Regions from separate parts of the Homo sapiens genome. Here region 1 is linked to region 2. Evidence: fine-mapped expression QTL. Tissue or cell type: whole blood. Region 2 holds a variant in brackets; the other region holds the start of a gene. All regions are shown on one strand. Distances are between the middles of the regions.

Region 1 (8,102 bases), 120 kb after region 2:
CTCTACTACAAATACAAAAATTAGCTGGGCATGGTGGTGCACTCCTGTAATCCCAGTTATGTGGGTGGCTGAGGCACGAGAATTGCTTGAACCCAGGAGCTGGAGGTTGCAGTGAGCCAAGATTGCGCCACTGCACTCCAGCCTGGGTGACAGAGCGAGATTCCGTCTGGAAAAAAAAAAAAAATGCAATCTGAGGAATTCAGAGAAAGAGAAGGCAAACTTATCAACGTAAATGCATAAAGTAGTTGTGGTGAAAAGGATAAAGATGTCCCAGGAGAAATTATGCTAACAAAAAAAACTTTGCATTAAAGGAACTCTTGGAGAGATTTCACAATCTTAAAAGTGCAAAGGATAAATTTTGGAAGCTGATACAAATTAGAAAAGAATTCATGAAGGGATAGTACTCATCCCGGCTGGGCATGGTGGCTCATGCCTATATTCTCAACACTTTGGGAGGCTGAGGTGGGAGGACTGCTTGAGCTCAGGAGTTTGAGACCAGCTTGGGCAACATGGCAAAACCCTGTCTCTACTAAAAATCCAAAAAAAAAAAAAAAAAATTAGCTGGGCATGGTGGCACACGCCTGTAGTCCCAGCTATGGGGTACTGAGGTGGCAGGATCACTTGAGCCTGGGAGGTCGAGGCTGCAGTGAGCTGTGATTGTGCCACTGCACTCCAGCCTAAGCAACAGAGGGAGACCTTGTCTCAAGAAAAATCCAAAAACCTGTTGGCCCTCATTAGTGTAGCTGTAGCTGGCTAAAAAAAAAAAAAAAAAAAAATTAATTTAAAAGAAAAAAGACAACTGGGCATGGAAGTTCACGCCTGTAATCCCAGCACTTTGGGAGGCTGAACAGGTGGATCACTTGAGGTCAGGAGTTCGAGACCAGCCTGGCCAAAATGGTGAAACCCCGTCTCCACTAAAAATACAAAAATTAGCCAGGCGTGGTGGCATGCGCCTGTAATCCCAGCTACTTGGGAGGCTGAGGCAGGAGAACTGCTTGAACCCAGGGGGTGGAGGTTGCAGTGAGCCGAGATCGCGACACTGCATTCCAGCCTAGGCAACAGAGCGAGACTCTACCTCAAAAAAAAAAAAAAAAAAAAATACCCATTCCATATTATGAGTTATGTGACAAAAAGGCAAGCACTGTTTTAATTACTCTTGATAAGTGATTTTTATAAACAAAATAGTTTATTTCTCAATGTTTTTAATGTTTTAAAGTATACTAAATAAATATGCTTACTTTTTTCATTTCCCTACATATTCATAACCAACAGTAAGAGAGTTTACAATGTTTGACAAAAAGTTTTAAAGATCACAGAACAATCATAACTTTTCCCATTGATTATTAACATAGTGTTACCTGGTTTTAACTTGCACAGTCATTTGTGTGGTCCCACACTATGATGCAAAGCAAGGACTGCCTGTACCTCTAACTTCTGGCAGGTCAAGGGGCTTATTATTTCACAATGAGAGACCTTTTCCTCTGGTCTTTACAATATGCTCAAACAAAAGGAATTTAAACTGATCTTGGCTGATGCTAGGAAGACAGTTTTCGGGTGCTGAAAGTGACTGAGAACTACTGCCATATCTGAATATGCAATTCCCCAAACACTTCATTATTCCCTAAAATACATATATTCTAATGCTGAAAGATAGTTGAAAGATGGTTGAGTAAACTGAATAGTTGTTCAATTTGTCCTGTGTGATAGCATAGTATTTCATATCTGTCTTCCTTTCTTGAATATAGGGGCAAAACAATGAATGTGTGATAGAAGTAATGATGGAGAGGTAACATGGATAGTAGCTTTAGAGTCAGACTTCAATGTGAACACTATCTCTACATCACTTACTGTAATCTTAGGTAAATTATTTCTTAGAACTTCAATCTCCTTATCTTTGAAATGGGGATAATAATACCTTCTTTTTGAAATTACTGTAAAGATCAAAAGAGATAAGATATATGAAGTGCTTAGCAAAGTGTAGTACAAGTGACCACTTAGATAATAGCTATTATTACATTATCCTTAATATTACCATCAATACTATTGTTAATGTAAATACTATCGTGATGTTAATATTGCACTTGCTTTAAACACATATTTTAAACATATTATTATTAATCAGCATATTTTTCAAAGATCAAATTATCTTAGTCCAAGATATATTACTGTAGATACTCATGACTTGCTATGGTAAGATGACTTGACCTCAACTTCCTCCAGATGATTTTCTCCCAAGGTGCATGCGCAAAGGGCTGCAAACATTCACTCATCCTCTTCTTGCAACCCCTCTGATTCCTATGTCAAAACCCTCCCTGCAGTCTGCTCAGAGTTTCCTCTTCTGAGCACATTGAGAACAAATGTCATTTCCCATTTCTCAGAGCTATCTGCCAGAACACAGTATCTTGCTCTCTCAGAGTCCACATGACTTACCGCCAGTTTTCTCTCTTTGCATTTTTTATATTTTTTTTGTAGAAATAGGGTCTAACTCTTGCCCAGGCTGGAGTGCAGTGGCATAATTACAGCTCACAGCAACCTTGAACTCCTGGGCTCAAGTGATCTTCCCACCTCAGTCTCCTAAGTAGCTGGGACTACAGGCACAAACCACCATGCATATCTAATTTTTTTTATTTTTTATGGAGACAGGGTCTCACTATGTTGCCCAGGCTGGACTCAAACTCCTGGCCTCAAGCAGTCCTCCTGCCTTGGCCTCCCAAAGTGCTGGGATTACAGGCATGGGCCACGATGCCCAGCCCAGTTTTTTCTTGGTTCTAAACTAAGAGTCATTATTACCTACATAGACCCATAAAGCTGCAACTAAGGCCAGCCCCTTTTCTCTATTAAATAATTTTTTCCTTCGAAAATATTGAGTTCATTGAACAATGTCTGATTTAACACTTTCAGTGACAGAAAGTCCTCTGTCCCCCAAGTCAACCTTTCCCATATCATTGGTGAGAAGGTTTTTCCTTATATTGAAGCAAACTTTTCCCCATTACAGTTAGTTTCTGCCCATATGCCCTAATTCCAGATTCCAAATAAATTAAAAAAAAATTATTCTATATGATAGCCCATCCAATATTTGAAGACTCTTGAATTCCTCTTTTCCATGTTACACATTTCCAGCGCAGAGTGCATGGTTTTACATCTCTTTCCTCGTGGTCATGGTTCTCTGGACCAGGCATGGGCTTGCCAAAGTGATCTAACAACAAACTGGTAAAGCGCTTCCTTTGCCAACATGTGGGTTCCCAAGTAATTGTATTACAAATGATCCCTTTGCCAATATTTCTCCATGATTATGTAAAAATTATTAATTTAATAGTTGAAGAAAAGTGACTCTTAGCCTAAATCATGGTCATAAGAGAATAGTACTAAAGTCCTGAAAACTGCAAAAAGTGTTCTTTTTTTTTTTTTTTGAAACTTAGCCAATTACCAGAACAGAATAAAGTGGGACCATTTGTCATGATATGCTTGCCTCTTTCCTACAAAGCCATGCACAGATGCCTGAGAACAGGACTCAACAATGAGAAGGTTAGCTAAGAAGAGTTTCACTTCACGTCCTGAGAAGTAGATCCAACTAAAAGAAGGCAGTAATCATTAGCCAAAGGATAGTCTTTGCACTTTGCCAGAAGCAGGTACCTAAAAGAAGGATCAAATATTGTGCTCTCAAAACCTGATTAAATGATAGAAAAAGAAGTGGCAGATTTCTCCTAGCCTGGCAGGAAAAATCGTCTAGGAAAACAGACAGACACCCACATAGGCACACAGAACAAGCCCAACCTGACCAGCAGTGCCTGACAGAGCAGCCGCTAAAGAAGAATGCTTAAATCCTCAGAAGGTGCAGTCGGTGGAAGTAGTGTCCTCAGATGACCCCTAACTCCTAGATAGTTGGATAGGACAGAATGGAGCAGGGACTTGGTCCTCTGTGCTCTTGGGAGCCTGGCAGGGGCAGAAGGTACAGGCTAGGTGCAAGATGCCTTCGACTCCTGGTGCAAGATGACAGTTGAATAATCATACTCAGAGAGCAGATGACCTCTGGTACTTGAAGACATCCTGGGGGATAGGGGTGGGATGGTTCAGATCTCAGACTAGTGAAACTGTTCCCTGGAGGTGAGCAAGGAGGTCTAATATTCCAGTGAAAAGGGAAGGGAAAGACGGTAGAATTCTCACGGATTGGGGGAAAGACGAAGCTAGGAACTGTACCCTTCTGGTGGTGGCAACAGCAGAGCAGGTGTCCTGGGCCCTCATTCCAAGGGGCAGGGTCCTCCACTCTCCCAGCCTGGCCCCACTCCGCTCTCGGGCAGGAATTCCCATTCCCAACCCGGCTCTTCAGGCTTTCCCCCTTAGGTCCAGCAGGGGCTCCCCACTTCCCACTGCTCTTCTGCCCCCCCAATCCTCAGGCCCCCTTCCTCCCTCCCAGACCCCGGTACTCCTCCCTCTACACACTGGACTCCCGGCCCGCTCCTCTCAGCCTCCCGCTGGCCCAGGGCGCCGCATTCCAGCTCCCGGGGCCAGGCCTGGCACCTCCCTTCGCGGCCAGGTTCGCTCTTTGCCTTCCTCACACGGCGTCTCCTCAGCCCGGTGCCCTCTCGCCCCCACTCCCCTCCTCAGGCCACACTCACAGAACTCGGCGATGTACCAGGTCACGGAGTAGTTCTCCTCGCACCAGTCCAGCGTGGAGGTCGTGGGGCCCCAGTAGCCCTCTCGGTCCGCGGCCGGAGCCATCACGCCGCCGCCGCCGCCGCCCAGGCGCTCCGCTCACTGTGCCGGGTTAGGCTGGCGACCAGGCCGGCTCCGGCCCAGCCCGCGCGCTCGCTCGCGCCCCGCCCGGCCCTGCCTCCCCGAGGGGCGGGGCCTGGCGCCGTTACTGACACTGCCCTGACGGAGGCCCCGCCCACCGGCGCCGCTGGGCCGCGGGGCCGGGCCAGGCCCGACCTGGTGTAAGGCCCACTCGGAGGGCGCCGGCTGGCCCCGCCCCTCTTCACCCTTGGGCGGGGCAGGGGCGTGATCCAGGAAGGAGCCGGGGGCCTGGGCTTCCTGGCCGGTGCAGACACGCCAATGGCCGTAGGTTGGGGGTTCCTGACATCCCAGAGGCTATATTCTGTCAGGATGTGCCAGAGCCTCTATTTGTGTGCGTGTGGTTTGATTTAATCGGGGCGGGGGTGGGATGAATACTTCTATCAAGCCCTTGCTTGATTAAACCTGTGCGGCGAAGCGCCTCTATGTCTTCCATTGAGCCACAGGCCTCAAATGGAGCCCCAAAACAGAGTACCCCCAACCAATCCCCGTGATTCTCAGGAAATAAACCGTGATTTTCTGATAAAGGTGTAAGTGTCTCTTCGGTACAAAGGGAAAGGGTGAACAACCCAGGACCGAAAAAAAAAAAGTAGGTTCTGAGATCCTAAAAAAAAAGAATGCTGCTAGCTAGAGCACTAAAGCAAAGTTTCCCTGCTTCGTTTGGGCCTCCAAGCACAGAGGTTTCCACGTTCTAACTATAATTGTGCCCTGCTCTTCAGGCAACCAACAGCCTACCCCTACTTCCAACTTCAAGTCTAATACTCCCAGCCCCCGTCTGGGAGTATCGTAGACGGCAAAACCCCGTGTCTACGAAAAATACAAAAATTAGCTGGGCGCGGTGGCTCAGACGTGTGGTCCCAGCTACTTGAGAAGCTGAGGTGGGAGGATCACTTGAGCCCCCGCGGTGGAGATTGCATGCAGTGAGCTGAGACTGTGCCAATCCAGCCTGGGAGAACAGAGCGAGACCCTGTCTCTAAATAAATAAATAAATAAATAAATAAATAAATAAATAAAAAGTCTAGTACTCCACAGGTCTGCCAGAGAGCTCTTCCTAAAACAGATGCAACCACCCTTGCCCCTAGTGTTCAGCTACACCAAACTCAAACTTTCCCCTCTCCTAGAATGCGCTGGGTCACCTGCCTTTGCTCCCACAGTTCAACTGGGACAGCCTAACTCTCTTCTCCGTTTGACCAACTCCCCACTCTTCTTTTAAAATCCAGCTCTCTGAAGCCATCCCAGATGTTTACACCCTAGAGCTTCCTTGCCCTTTGTTCACATCCTACTGTGCTACATCCTGATCAGAGACCTTGCTTTCCCTTCTTTATGGTCTTAGTATTAGGACTCTGCCTGAATACACAGTAAGAAATGAAGAGTAAAAATGAAGGATGATACAACTGCTATTTTCTAAATAAATAAGTCAGATGTGGTGCAAGTCAAAGGTAAAAGAGAGGACAAGGAGAGATGAAGAGCCCACAGCCTTTCTACAAAATAACCATAGCCAATTAGCAGGAAATAGATGCAGAACTTTTATTTGCTAGGTGCAAAACCTAGGGAAGCAGTGTATCTTTTTTTTTTTTTTTTTTTTTTTTTGAGACAGTCTTGCTCTGTCGGCCAGGCTGGAATGCACTGGCATGATCTCAGCTCACCGCAACTTCCGCCCCCTGGGTTTAAGCGATTCTCCTGTCTCAGCCTCCAGAGTAGCTGGGACTACAGGTGTGCACCACCACGCCCAGCTAATTTTTGTATTTTTAGTAGAGACAGGGTTTCACCTTGTTGGCCAGGCTGGCCTCGATCTCTTGACCTCGTGATTCACCCGCCTCGGCCTCCCAAAGTGCTGGGATTACAGGCGTGAGCCATCGCACCCGGCCGGAAGCAGTGTATTTTAATACGAATAGTAGCCTCTCTGAAATTTTTCTTTTTTGAGACAGAATCTCGATCTGTCGCCCAGGCTGGAGTGCAGTGGTGCCATCTTGGCTCGCTGCAACTTCTGCCTTCCGGGAATCGTGCCTCAGTACCCCCTCATCCCCATAGCTGGGATTACAGGAGGCTGCCACCACACCTGGCTAATTTTTGTATTTTTAATAGAGACGAGATTTCACCATGTTGGCCAGGCCAGTCTTGAACTCCTGACCTTGAGTGATCCACCCTCCTTGGCCTCCGAAAGTCCTGGGATTACAGGCCTGAGTTACACCCTGCCTGGCCTGAAATTTTTATTTTGAATGTCATTGAGCTTCTACTATATACCAGGCCCTGTTTGGCTGCCTGGGTGCTAGGACCACACAGAGGTAAACATGAAAGATCCAAGAAGGCCGTCTCCAGAGAGATAAAAGCCATTGAGGTGTGGGGAAACATCTATTTCTAGTCACTTTATCTCATATTCTAAAACTTCCGTTTTGTTTATGTGTTTATGTAATAATCATGAGCATATATAATTTATAAATGAATGAAATATTTATATATTTATATGCTCAAAATGAATATGCAAAAACTCATACGCAAAAGTGATTTGCCGATGAGGTGTGCAATCAGAACAGTGCAGAGACCACAACAATAGAGTATGATCATTCTTAGCTAGGAGTAAAAAAAAAATTAGGGTGTTGTGGAACCCCCTATGTGAAAATAACCCCTGACCCAGCCAAGTGACTCAAGGCAGGATGAGGCCTTGGCTGAGTCAATACTCTGCACAATGTTCCTCAATAGTGAAAAAGGAAATCTACCGTGACCAGGACGGATTTTAGGAGAGAGAAATTCCCCCATCCGAGAGAAAAGGTGCATTGCAGAAGTTTCACTCAGAAAACACAAAATGAATTTCACAGTTCCTTCAGCAATATCTACCTTCCTTTTTCTTTTTTTCTAAAAAATTTCCCCCCTTGAGCATAAAAGCAATGCCTGGAAATGTAAGGGACCCAGACAAGTCAAAACTATCTCAAAAAAGAAGAACAAAGCTGGAGGACTTATACTTCCTGATTTCAACACTTACTGTAAAACTATAGTAATGAAGACAGTGCAGTACTGGCATGAAGATAGACATGTAGATCAAAGGAATCGAATTGAGAGTCCAGCAATAAACCCTTACATTTATGGTCAATTGATTTTTAACAAGGATGCCAAGACAATTCAATAGGGATTGAATAGTCTTTCAACAAATGGTGCTGGGACAACTGGATATCCACATGCAAAAGAATGAAATTAGAATGCTTCCTGTTACAATAAACAAAATTCAACTCAAAATAGATCATAGACCTAAATGTAAGAGCCAAAACTATACAATTCTTAGAAGTTTACATAAAAATAAATATTTGTAACCTTGG
Region 2 (8,102 bases):
TTTAGGAGGCCTGGCTTGTATTTATTACCATGGTTATTTCACTTTATTACATATAGTCACTTTCTTATCTGTCCCCTTCCTCAGACAATGAGTTCCTGATTCTGTATCTACAGAGCCTAGGATCATGCCTAAAATAAAGGAGGTTTTCCAGTACATGTTTCACAAATGAACAAGCACACAGAAGGCAAGACAGATTTAAAAATCATTAGAGCCCAGGTGCGGTGGCTCACGCCTGTAATCCCAGCACTTTGGGAGGCCGAGGTGGGTAGATCACAAGGTCAGGAGTTCGAGACCAGTCTGGCCAACACAGTGAAACCCCATCTCTACTAAAAATACAAAAAAATTAGTCGTTGCAGGTGTATGCCTGTAATCCCAGCTACTCGGGAGGCTGAGGCAGGAGAATCGCGTGAATCCGGGAGGCAGAGGTTGCAGTGAGCCAAGATTGCGCCATTGCACTCCAGCCTGGGCGACAGTGTGAGACTGTCTCAAAAAAAAAAAAAATCATTAGAGGTCTAGACTGCTTCACATATTTGATATGTTCAAAGAATATCCTAAGGAATCAACAGAAAAATGAATAAGTTATCAAAGTGATAAGATAAAAGGTCAATATACAAAAATCACTTATATTTCTAAATGCTGGCTATGAACAATTGGAATATAAAGCTTTTAAAAAGCAATACTGTGGTCAAGTGCAGTGGCTTACGCCTGTAATTCCAGCACTTTGGGAGGCTGAGGCAGGAAGATTGCTTGAGGTCAGGAGTTCGAGACCAGCTTGGGCAACATGGCAAAATCTCGTCTCTACAAAAATTCAAAAATTAGCTGGGCATGGTGGAGCGCACTTGTAGTCGCAGCTACTTGAGAGGCTAAGTAGGAGGATGGCTTGAGCCTGGGATGAGGAGATTGCAGTGAGCCAAGATCGTGCCAATGCCCTCCAGCCTGGGTGAGAGCCAGACCCCATGTCAAAAAAGAAAAAAAAGCAATACTATTGAAAATAGCATCCTAACCATGAAAAACATAGGGCTAAATTTAACAAAGATCAATTCACTTAAAATCACAAAAAGTCACTTGGATAAATTAAAGAACCACATTCATGGTTTGGGAGACTTAGTAATGTTAAGATATTAACTTTCCTCAAACTGGTCTATAGAGTCGAAGAAATTACAGTCAATCTTCCAGCAGGCTATTTTGTAAAAATTGACAAGCTGACTCTAAAATTTATGTGGAAATGCAAAGGAACTAAAATTTCCAAAGCTATACTGAAAAAGAACAAAAGTGAAGGACTTATTCTAACTGACTTCAAGATTTACAATAAAGCTACAGTAACTAGACAGTATGAGGATACACGCAGTGATCAATAAAACAGAATTGAGAAAAAAGTCAAGATAATTTAATGCAGAAAGAATAATCTCAAAAGATGGTTCTGGAACAACTAGATACTGGTAAGGAAAACATGATCTTTGACAAAACTAACTCAAAATAGATCATGGACCTAAATGTAAAATAAAGTTATAAGACTTCTAGAAAAAATAAACAAACAAAATATTTTTGATCCTGGGAAGGCAAAGATCTCTTATGACACAAAAACACTATTCATGAACATTTAAAAAATAAATTGGATTTTATAACAATTTAAAACTTCTGTTCTTCAAGAGACATTAAATGAAAAGACAATTCACAGACTGGAAAAATATTTAAAATACAAATATCTGACAGGACTTGAACCCAAAATAGATAAAGAATTTTTACAATTCAAAAAGAAAAAAAGCTATTTTATAAAAATGGGGGCTGGGTACAGTGGCTCATGCCTGTAATCCCAGCACTTTGGGAGGCCAAGGCAGGCGGATCACAAGGTCAAGAGATCGAGACCATCCTGGCCAACATGGTGAAACCCCATCTCTACTAAAAATACAAAAATTAGCTGGAGGTGGTGGCGGGTGCCTGTAGTCCCAGCTACTTGGGAGGCTGAGGCAGGAGAATCACTTGAACCCGGGAGGCAGAGGTTGCAGTGAGCCGAGATCGCACCACTGCACTCCAGAGTGGCGACAGAGCGAGACTCTGTCTCAAAAAAAAAAAAAAAAAGGAAAAAGGTTTGAATAGATTGAATAGATAGTTCTTAATATAACACATACAAATGGACAATTAGAATAAAAAAAGATGCACATCATTAGTCACTAAGAAAATACAAATTAAAACACCACAGAGATAGTATATCATACTCACTAGAATGACTAAAATAAAAAAGACTGATAATACCAAGTCTTGGCAAGTATATGGAGCAAATGGAAGTTTCATATATTGCCAGTAGAACAATAATAAGGTGCAACTAAATTGAAAAACAGTTTGGCAGTTTCCTATAAAGTAAAACATATACTTACCATACAACATAGAAATTCCACTTCTAGGTATATACCCAAGAGAAATGAAGTCATATATCCATACAAAGACTTGTTAACAGATGTCCATGGTCCCTTTATTCATAGTAGCCCCAAACTGGCAATAACCTTAATGTTCAACATTGGTAAACAGTATAAAATGGAATACTACTAATGATATATGTAACAACATACATGAATATATTCATCAAAAGTAATTGGCAAATTAGTGCCCTCAAAAAATATTATACTGAATAAAAGAATCCAGTTACAAAAGAGTACATATGGTATAATTTCTTTTATATAAAATTCCAGAGCAGACAAACTAATCTATAATTATAGAAAGTAGATCAGTGGTGGCCTGGAGGCCAGGGTAGGTGTCAGTATTAACTGCAATGGGTCAGAAAAGAATGTTCTAATGTGATAGAAATGTTCTGTTTCTCTTTCTTGCCATAAGGGTAATGGGTAAATAGGAGTATACATTTGTCAAAACTCATCAAACCATACACTTAAACTGGGTGCATTTTATTCCATGTAAACTGTGTGTCAATACAGTGGATTAAAAATTATTTCACCCCTTTCATTTCCTTCTAAGTGTCACTTAAAGTGTACTACAGCAGGCTCTTTCTGAATGGGGGAATATGATCATAAACAGATAGTGCAGAAGATTGCTGAGGAAAGATTAGAATCCAGAGACATAGTTTTTGAGAAACAAAAGCTTTGCATGCTCTTTTTATATATTCTTTTTTATACTCTGAGGTGGTAGCAATGATGAAACTTATGTTTAATTCACTATGACAGGACACCATGCTCCATTTTCATATAATGGCAAGCTCTATCCCTTTCTACTCCACTGAACTTTGTATGTCTCAGGTATAGTATTAATCACATCACATGAAAGCTGCTTGTTTCTGGTTCTGTTTCTTTTACTAAACTACAAATTTCTTGAGGTAAAAGGACTATTTCTTACTTAATTTCCCAGTTCCTAGAGCCTATCACAGTGCATGATACATGAATAGCATACAATAAGTTTATTTTATAAACAAATCATTTATTTTAATCTTCATGGGAAATTTATAAGTACTATAATCTCCACTTTTACAAACGAAGGAACAAAGGTTGACTTACTTAAGCTCATTCAGTTACTAAATATCAGAGCTGAAAATTGATCTACATTATCAGTATCCTTCTAAGTAATATCTGCTGTTCCCTAGCACTAAAACTATTTTTCTTTTTCTTTTTTTTTTGAGACAGGGTCTTGCTCTGTCCCCTAGGTAGAGTGCAGTAGCAGCACAATCGTGGCTCATTGCAACCTCAACCTCCTGGGGCTCAGGCAGTCCTTCTGCCTTAGCCTCCTGTGTAGCTGGGACAGAGGTGTGCACCATCATGCAAGCTAATTTTTTAATTTTTTTGTAGTGACAGGGTCTCACTATACTGCCCAGGCTGGTCTTGAACTCCTGGGCTCAAGTAATACTCCTGCCTTGGCCTTCCAAAGTGCTGGTATTACAGATGTGAGCAACTATGCCCAGCTCCTAGCACTAATACTTAAGAGTTCTTTGTACCCATTATATGATGGTTATCTGATTCTTTTCAGTATAGTCATAATTGCTAGCTCAAGAATATCTTCTCCTAAAGATATATAAACATCAGAATAGTTTTTAAAATATGTTATTAAAAGGAGTTTACCTTATTTTTTTAGACCAAGGTGACAAACTATGGCTCAAGAGCCAATCTCTTGGCCTGAGCCTGTTTTTTTTTGTTAGTTTGGTATTGGTTTTTGTTTTTCTTGAGACAGGGTCTCCCTCTGTTTCCCAGGCTGAAGTGCAGTGGCACAATCATGGTTCACTGCAGCCTCAACCTCCAGGGCCCAAGTGATTCTCCCACCTCAGCCTCCCAAGTAGCTGAAATTACAGGCATGCACTACCATGCCTGGCTAATTTTGTAATTTTTGTAGAGATAAGGTCTCCCTATGTTGCCCAGGCTTATCTTGAACTCCTGGGCTCAAGCGATCCTCCCACCTTGGCCTCCAAAAGTGCTGGGATTACATTTGTGAGCACTGTGCCCAGCTAAACCTGTTTTTTTTTT[A/TA]ATAAAATGTTACTGGAACATAGTCACACTCATTTATTTACATATTATCTGTGGCAGCTTCCAAGCTACAATAGCAGAGTTGAAGAGCTGCAACAGAGACTCCTGTCCTACAAAGCCTAAAATATTTATCATCTGGCCCTTTACAGAAAAAGTTTTCTGATCCCCGTTCTATATCTTTTTTTCTGGGGGGGACAGGGTCTCACTCTGTCACCCAGGCTGGAGTGTAGTGGTGCCATCTCAGCTCACTGCAGCTTCTGCCTCCTGGGTTCAAGCGATTCTCCCACCTTAGCCTCTCGAGTAGCTGGGACTACAGGCACACATCACCACGCCTGGCTAATTTTTTGTATTTTTAGCAGAGACAGGTTTTCACCATGTTGGCCAGGCTGCTGTTCTATATCTTCTTACCTAACTTTGAAATAGGGCTTGACACCATATGGGTCATAGCAGCTAGATGGGCATTCTTACTTTTATTGTTTCTGGATAAAGATCAGTTTTAGTAAAGGTCAGAGCCAACAGTGATATAGTTGGTTATAGCTAACTAAAAATAAAAGAAAAAAATCTTTCAATTACTTTAGTGTGTACCATTAACTTTGAGAGAGGTATTAGGAAGTAGAAGTCAGATATGAACTGCTTTGAATTGTGGCTCCACCACTTAAAAGTGTCTCAGGATCCTTAGGGTGTTGCTTTTCTAGCCAGAAACCTCTGTGGCTGGTGGCACCTTTGCCCAAGTTTTGTTCTGGCCCACTGGGCTCATTCTGCCCACTCGGCCTGGCAGGCTGCACTTGGCTCATGCTACCAGCCTGGATCCCATGCCTGCCAAGGGGAAGCCAGGAATGGAGCAGTGAGAAGTGTTTAATGAGCAAGCTTGGGGTCTAGCCACTGTGCACAGCCAGGCACACTGGCTACTGCAGCAGGGCAGGCAGCTCCAGAAGCCAGCATAGGCACTGGCTCCATGTAAGCCTGCGGTTTGATCAGATACACCGTAAGCATCTTCCACTGTGGGCACCCCCATCTGGACAAGGGGAATGCAGTGGTGCCTGGAAACTGGGAGATGCCAGAAACCACCAAGCCCCCAAAAGGGTGTCACAGCCCTGGCTCGCGGAGCCCCTAGGTCTGGGCTCCCTGAAGGGCCACAGCTCTTCTCTCCTTCTTATCTCCTGCAATGTGGCAAGCTGGGGAGAGGGATATGTTTCAGCCCTGTTTGTGTTACATCTCTTTCAGCCCACCATTTGGCAAGTCCTAAGTTCTTGTCCTGCATCCAGGAAGAATGAGGTATGCGGACAACTGGAGGGTGAACAAGGTGGAAAGGAGCTTTATTGAGTGACAGAACAGCTCTTGGGAGACCCAAAGTGGGTGGCTCCTATCTGCAGGCAGGTCATCCCAGTGAATGTCCAGCTCTCAGTGGAGAGGAGACCCAGAGTGGGCAGCTCCTATTCGCAGGTAGGTCCTCCAGTCATCTGTGTGAGTCTGGCTGGGTCTGGGGTTTTTATGGGCTCGGGAGGGAGGAAGTGAGTGCTGATTGATCAATGGGCAGCCATGGGAGGGCTTGGAAAAAGCACTGTAAGTTCTCACTCTGGGCCACAGACTCCACCCGGAAATGACAGCCTGGCCCCCAGGCTTCAGGCTGTCCCCGGCTTGAAGGTGGAGCTTCACCGGGGACTGCCCCTTTCTGCCCAGGAACCTGTCTGCCTCCTGCCACCATCAATGTATGGCCCATGGTGCCCAGGCTGTTCTTGCCGAGGGGTGCCTGCAGGCCCACACCAAGCTGCCCTCAGTCCCCGCCTCGGCCTCCCTCCCATGCTTGTCAGTGCCTAAAGTCCAGAGGGGGCGGAGGTGGCAGGGGGCTGGCATGTCAGCACCACCCCAAGCACATGCACACCTGGCCAAGTTGTGGCAGCACCCGGGCTCGGCCACAGCTTTGCTCTGCCCTGGAGTGGGAGCTGGGAGCGGAGAGAAGCCAGGCAGTGGGAGCAGGCACTTTCAAGCCTGCAGGGGCAAGGGGTTTCCTGGAACTCCAAGAGTGCAGGGATGCCCAGGTCCAGAGCCATGGCTGGGCATCTGCAGCTGTGCCCGGGAGTGTGGGGCTCCTGCCCCACCAACTCAGTAGGGGACGGGGTTCCCACCTGTTCCCGGCCCCCACCAGCACTGCCTCCCCTGCTGCAGCCAGCATCTTTGCAGTGGCTGCTCTAACTGGGCTACTGCTGCCCTCAAAAGCCTCGTTACTAGGGCCTGACTCAGGCATGTGGGTCCCTACATAAGCTAGTAATTTTTTTGCCCCTCCAAACACATATTCTTAACATACTTGTCCAACATTTAGAGAAGGCTGATGTTGCAGGGTAATGGGTGAAGGAGGCTTTCCTCTAATGTTCCCAGTGACTTAGCTAGAGCCCAAACCTGCATACCCTAACTTACTCAAATAGAAGACCTATAGCTAACCTCACCCACCCTCCTTAGAAGGCACATTATTTGATCATGCAGTACAGGAAGGGTCTCACTTCTACACTTCTACCACATACCCAGGCAGCCTATCAAAGTGTTCTTCCAACCTCTCCTTGAGAGGAATTGTGATCATTGTAATTTTCTCCATCATGATATATTTCCAGGGATATTTCAGTGTTCCTTAGAGACTGTTTACCTGGACAATGGCCTGGCCAGTATGCTTTTAAATCAAGTTCTGTTTTTGTCCATAGACAAGTTACTACATCTCTCTGTGCTTTACTTCCTTGTCTATAAAATGGGGCCAATACCCATTTATCTTGCATAGTTGTTGAGAATTAGAGATGGCATTGTACACTGCCTAGCACAGTACAAAGCAGTTACATATTAGCATTTATTAATGTTACTATCATAATCATTTTTATCTTTCAAGATTGATTTTTTCCTTGACATTCAGGAAATGCAAATTAACTTGATAATAAAGTAAACAGAATATAATACAGTAAGAGAACTTTGGATTGGGAATGGCCTGTAAGCTGTTTCCATATTTGTAAATAACCAATCAAAATAAGTATATTCTTGAGAGCATTTAGTCTACCTTAGAATAAGAAAGCAAGTATCTATTTAAAAGATAACTTCAAACAAAAAGGAGATTAAGTTGACACGATCACTATACAACTAGAAGTGTACCTCACTTTTCTGGTAAGCGTCTTGTTAAACTATATTGTAGAATACAGAAACTGTATCTGAAAACTTTTATGGCACAATATGAAAATCTTTATCTAAATTTGTACACATTATTCACTTGGGAAAGGAAAATTATGGAATTTAAGCTATTTAGATCCTATCTAAATTGGCTACAGGGTTTTGAGATCACAAAAGTTAATAAACAACATTATTGTAACTTCCCAGAAATTATACTCTATATTGATATCATAAAATTTATAATCTTCTACATTATTAAAATATCCTAGTAATATAAATGTATCAGTTATATTAATCCACTATGAGGTAAATATAAATTTAAAAATAAATCAAACAATGAAATTTTAAAAGTACTTACATGCAGTACACAAATATGCAACAGCTGTATATCATTGGGAGTTCATCCAATAGCTGTAAGAAACAAAGATAGATAACAGGCTTGAATATCATGGAGCAGCAATTATTATGCAAATCAAAATAAAACATCAAAATGATTAAGATTTT

What was found. PIP is the estimated chance that this variant, and not a neighbour inherited with it, causes the effect.
Region 1: ACER3 starts here. The variant in region 2 is fine-mapped to the expression of ACER3 in whole blood (INTERVAL, PIP above 0.99).

Annotation. Positions count from the first base shown.
Region 1 is chr11:76,857,594-76,865,695 of GRCh38, reverse strand. It overlaps ACER3 (alkaline ceramidase 3), which reads right to left and starts at 4,778. Exons shown (of 11, transcript NM_018367.7): 1 at 4,617-4,778. The coding sequence starts at 4,719. RefSeq lists silencers at 4,706-4,965, 5,006-5,105.
Region 2 is chr11:76,976,196-76,984,297 of GRCh38, reverse strand. It overlaps ACER3 (alkaline ceramidase 3), which reads right to left. Exons shown (of 11, transcript NM_018367.7): 4 at 7,957-8,009. All of the region lies in intron 1 of ACER3-AS1 (ACER antisense RNA 1), which reads left to right. Among named protein-coding and RNA genes, the nearest start is that of B3GNT6, 54 kb to the left of the region's middle. The variant A/TA (reference allele first, on the strand shown) is at 4,458.